2 separate regions of the Homo sapiens genome follow, and region 1 is linked to region 2. The links come from fine-mapping of genetic effects on gene expression. Tissue or cell type: sigmoid colon. Region 2 holds a variant in brackets; the other region holds the start of a gene. All regions are shown on one strand. Distances are between the middles of the regions.

Region 1 (2,984 bases), 71 kb before region 2:
TGGTCAGGCTGGTCTTGAACTCCTGACTTCAGGTGATCTGCCTGCCTCGGCCTCCCAAATTGCTGAGATTATAGGCGTGAGCCACCACGCCTGGCCATGCATCACATTTTTATTTGTAAAAGTAAAAACCATGGAAACAACATCAATATCTAGCAATAGGATGCAAAATGAATGAGAACTATAGTACATTCAAGTGATGCTAAAGTTTTATACAATCATTAAAAATGATTGTTTAGGGCTGAGCATGGTGGCTCATGCCTGTAATCCCAATGCTTTGGCAGGCCAAGGCAGGAGGATCGCTGGAGCCCAGGAGTTCAAGACCAGCCTGGTTGACATAAGGTAGCCCCATGTCTACAGAAAATAAAAAATAAATTACCCGGGTGTGGTGACACGTGCCTGTAGTCCCAGCTACTTGAGAGACTTGTAGTCCCAGCTACAAGAGAGAGCCTCTCACTTGAGCCCACGAGGTTGAGGTTGCAGAGGGAGACCCTCTGCAGGGTCTCAAAAAAAAAAAAAATCGTGTAGGGCTGGGCTCCGTGGCTCATGCCTGTAATCGCAACACTCTGGGAGGCCGAGGCGGAAGGATCCCTTGAATCCAGGAGTTAGAAATCAGCCTGGACAACATCACAAGGCTCTGACTCCACAAAAAATAAAAAAATTAGCCAGGCATGGCGGCATGTGCCTGTGATCCCAGCTACTCCGGAGGCTGAGATGGAGGATCACTTGAGTGAGACTTTGTCTCTAAACAAAACAAAACTCTGTGTGTGTGTGCGTGAGCATTTACAGTGCTAAACAACTTTAAGTACCACACTAATAGTGAAAAATATTACAGGAGAGGCAGCAGAGCAATTGTTAAGAGCCTGGGCCCTAGAAATGACTGCCTAGGTTTGAGGCCTGGCTCTCCACTTACTAGCTGTATACTCCTGGGCAAGTTACCTACCTTCCCAGCCCCTCAATGTGCCCATTCATAGCATGGGGACTCATACCTAGTCCATAGTGTTGCTGTAAAGATTAAATTAGTTAATACAAGTAGAGGGCAGCGTCTAGCATCTAGTAAACAGTTGACAATTATTGGTTATTGTTATAGAAAATTGGAGGAGGGAGAAATCATATCTAACTGACAATGGATCAGGAAAGGCTTTATAGAGGAGGTGACATTAAAGAAAAGGTTTAATGCTAATGAAGAGTGATGGTGGGGGGCGGGGTCAAAAGATAGGGAGTTAAAGGTAGAGGAGGTGGTAAGGCGTAGGTTGTGTGAGGCCGTGAGTAGATAGATGAGTGGTGGCGTGTGGCAGTGGGAGCCATTGAAAACTAAATCTCCAAAGAGAGACAGGGGTCAAAATGTGGAGGGCCTTGAATTCCAAATTTAAAACTGGAGTTAACCACTGGCTATGAGAGTCATTAAAGATTTCTGAGCAAGAGAAAGAGGAAGCCTTCTTTGGCAGCATTGAAGGCTGACAAATTTGCAGTTTTATCCTTGAGTGTTACGAACTTCAGAAACAACTCTCTGAGGGCTAATATTTTGATTTAGGAAAAGGAAAGGGGGACACAAAGGAAGAGATGGAAAAAGGGAGTGAATAACTGAAGGATGATAAGTGGGAGGGGGAGATGAAAAGTGAGCCCGGTGGGAAGGTGGCAGCAAAGCCTGTCTTCCCTAATTCCTCATTCCTGGGGTCACTTGGTGACTGAACTCATACATAACCTCCCTTCTCCCCATTTAAGATTTGAAGTTTCCGTCTTTCCTTTAGGGCTTCATTTAACTTCGAGACTGTCCTTTTGGCCTGTGAGCACACGTAGGGCATTAGGACCCAGCGTTTGTTGTAGTGAGAGTGGTTGAATCTCGATCTCTCAATTTTTCTCTCGAGCTCCCTCCTCTCCCTTTGTCATTCTAGCTGCCTGCTGCCTCCGCAGCGTCCCCCCAGCTCTCCCTGTGCTAACTGCCTGCACCTTGGACAGAGCGGGTGCGCAAATCAGAAGGATTAGTTGGGACCTGCCTTGGCGACCCCATGGCATCCCCCAGAACCGTAACTATTGTGGCCCTCTCAGTGGCCCTGGGACTCTTCTTTGTTTTCATGGGGACTATCAAGCTGACCCCCAGGCTCAGCAAGGATGCCTACAGTGAGATGGTAAGTGAAGCAAACGGGTGATGAGGAGCGCACTCCCATGGGATTGCGAGGACCTCTCCCCTTTTTTCCTTCTCAGTTTCTGGTCCCACCCCCTTAGCCCCTATCCCCACCTGGACCCTCCGTTCTCAACAACTTTGCAGCTCGGAAGGAGCAGCTGGGCAAGAGCGATTTCTTTTGTGGGCTATGCTGTTCTGGAGCCACTGAATGCCAGTTGGGGGAGGGGTTGCGCAGCGAATACCCCCCATCCCAAGTAAACCAGAAGGCTGAGACCTGCGTAGCACCTGTCATTGGCAGGAGCCCTTCCCTCCTTCCAGCACACACCCAAAGTCCGGGCAACCAGTATACAAGTCTGATTCCCTCCCTGTGAGCTAAGAGTTTAGCAAGCGGAGAGTTTATTTATTTTAGAGCAGAACAAAAGGGAAAGAGGAAAAGAGCTGGGAAAAATGGGCTACTAAAACAAGCAATTTTTAGGGGCTGACTGGTATTCCTCATCCCAGGCAGACAGCTGATAGTATTCCTCCAGCCACCTGGGTATGTATCTGGATCCTTGAGACAAAGCATTCTTGGCCCAAATAAAGGTCACTAAGCTCTTGTTTCTTCCCCTTCTCTCAAGGGAGAGCTAGATGTTTTGTTTTATTTTGTTTTGTGTGTGGGGTAATCTACAAAATCTGCAAAGTCTGCTTTTTCTCTCCCGCAAACAGTCCGTAATCCCCACCTTGCCTTCTGTGGATGACCAGAGCCAGGCCCTCTGCAGGTTTTCCCCTCTGCAGAGTTGGAATCAATCACGGAAGGTGACTGGCCAAAACATCTCCTCTGCAACCTGGGGGCTGGGCTGCTTTCCCCAGTTGGGCGTGATGA
Region 2 (2,500 bases):
TCGTAAAAATTTGACTGCCGCAAAGAAAAATGAGTTGGTACAAAAGGTATGAATGAGAAAGCTCTGTGTTAAATCACTGTTGTTTAAAAATTAAGTCTAGATATATATGACCTGATGGGAGTAAGAAGGAAAGGGAGAATAGGTGATAGTGACAATTTTTTATTTCTTTCCCATTAGACAAAATCAGAGTTCAATTTCAGCAGCAAGACTTATCAAGAATTTAATCACTATTTGACATCAATGGTTGGTTGCCTGTGGACGTCCAAACCCTTTGGGAAAGGAATATATATTGACCCTGAAATCCTAGAAAAAACTGGAGTGGCTGAATATAAAAACAGTTTAAATGTAGTCCATCATCCTTCTTTCTTGAGTTACGCTGTTTCCTTTTTGCTACAGGTAAGGGTATTTAAAGAATTTTTAGATTTTGTATCTTAATACTGTGGTGGCAGAAATAGGAAGTGCCATAAATTTAATGTGTCTGAATTGTAAGACGTGTGTTTAGTAATTTTTTTTAAGTAACAACTAAATTTTGGGCATTGTGCTAGGCTCAGGGATTCCAGTTAATTTAAGTAAGTTTCTGTCCTCTAAGAGAGCTTGAGCTTGTAACAGAGACAGACTTGTAAACAAATTACTATAATACAGTGTGGCAAAATGAGAAAAGGTTCAGTTGTAAGAAAGATGGGGGAGTGATTAGTCCAGTCCTGCCTGGGTAGAGGTGGTGCCATGTAAGGAAACGCTTCATAGATGTGGAAGCTCTCATAAAATCCTTCTAGACAAGATAGAATATGTAGGTTAGTTAATAGTACAATTAGAGTCTTAGTCAAAGACTGCTGATTTAATGGATTGATATCAATATGCAGGCAGGTGGAGGAGGGTTTATGTTTGTGTGTGTCCTTTCAGGACTTCATTCTCAGCCCTGTCACTTTCAACATTATGTGTGTGTGACATGGAGAAGAACTCAAATGGTGGTATCTGAAATGCATGGATGAGACAACAGGGTGGAATTACAAATACCCTGAAAGAATTTGGACTCAGGATTCCCTTAACAGACGGGAACATTGAGAAATCTAACAAAATGAAAAAAAAGTGTGCAGGGTGGGGGAGATATTCATTGAATAAATTTTAATATATGTATACAATGAACCAGGCACTACAGTGAATAAGACACTCTGAGTGTTGTCCTCAGAGAGCTTAACATCTAGTCAGGGAGGCAGTCATTAAACAGACATCTTAGAAAAAACAATAATAAGTGATGTAATAGGGGAAAGTATAGAGGATGATGAAAAAATATAAAGGGGCGCTAAGTTCAGGATTTGCAGAAATGATGCTGATTGGAATTTTGAAGCACGAACATGAGCTTGTCAAGATAGGAGCAGAGTTTGAGGAAAAGTACAAAGATGCAGAGCAAAGATAGAACAGAAGTCAGCAGACTTTTCTTGTAGAGGGCCAGATTGTAAATATTTTAGATTTTACAGGCCAC[G/A]TGGTCTGTGTCAAGAGTACTCAACTTTATCATTGTAGCATGAAAGCAGCTGTAGACAAAGCATAAACAGATGGCTATAGTTGTATTCCAGTAAAAAATTTATTTACAAAACAGGTGTTGAGCTAGAGTTTGGGCTTTGGGCCGTGGTTGGCTGAACTCTGTGTTAGAGCCTGTCATGTTTGAGGAACATGAGGCAGAATTGTAGGGCTAGAGCAGTGATTCTACACTGGCTGAGCAGCAGAATTGTCAGTGGTGCTTCTTCTTTTTTTTTTTTTTTTTGAGATAGAGTCTCGCTCTGTCGCCCAGGCTAGAGTGCAGTGGTGCGATCTTGGCTCACTGCAACCTCTGCCTCCCAAGATCAAGCAATTCTCCTGCCTCAGCCTCCCGAATAGCTGGGATTACAAGTGCCCACCACCACGCCTGGCTAATTTTTATATTTTTAGTAGAGACAGGGTTTTGCCATGTTGGCCAGGGTGGTCTTGAACTCCTGACCTCAGGTGATCTGCCTGCCTCGGCCTCCCAAAGTGCTGAGATTATAGGCATGAGCCACCGCGCCCGGCCAGTGGTGCTTTTTCAAAGTGTACATCCTTGGCTGCTCCCATGCTGAGACTCCGATTTAATAACTCTAGGGTGACATTCAGGACCCACCTTTTAAATAGTTCTGATATACAACAAGAGTTGAGAGCCACTGGGCTAGACTATAACATGATAGGAGATGAGGTTTTGAAATGTAGTCAAGGACTAGATGCTGAGGAAAATAATACATAAGCCTCTGAAACCATATTGATTGATTAGAATATTTGAATAAGAATTATATTTTTTAACTACGTAGAAGAATTTCAGAGACATTATAGTGATTTTCTGATATTTCTTGTCTTTTTCTCTTTTCTTACCTTCATAATAACTTGATTTATCATACAATATACAATAACCTGTGTCAAATTAATAATATTAATGTTACTACTAATATGAGGCTACTAGATGAAATTTTAAATGTTTGCAGGTCTTTTTCCCCCTGCA

Direction of the effects. Alleles are on the strand shown, and positions count from the first base shown. SD is a standard deviation of normalised expression in the study named.
With allele A in place of G in region 2, the expression in sigmoid colon of the gene that starts at base 1,883 in region 1 is higher (small effect, 0.22 SD a copy in GTEx).

The links. PIP is the estimated chance that this variant, and not a neighbour inherited with it, causes the effect. A credible set is the group of variants that fine-mapping cannot tell apart.
Region 1: TMEM35A starts here. The variant in region 2 is the best candidate, but not a certain one, in a credible set for the expression of TMEM35A in sigmoid colon (GTEx, PIP 0.61).

Annotation. Positions count from the first base shown.
Region 1 is chrX:101,076,997-101,079,980 of GRCh38, forward strand. TMEM35A (transmembrane protein 35A) reads left to right here and starts at 1,883. Exons shown (of 2, transcript NM_021637.3): 1 at 1,883-2,126. The coding sequence starts at 2,007.
Region 2 is chrX:101,147,766-101,150,265 of GRCh38, forward strand. It overlaps CENPI (centromere protein I), which reads left to right. Exons shown (of 22, transcript NM_001386188.2): 19 at 1-46; 20 at 178-396. Among named protein-coding and RNA genes, the nearest start is that of CENPI, 51 kb to the left of the region's middle. The variant G/A (reference allele first, on the strand shown) is at 1,481.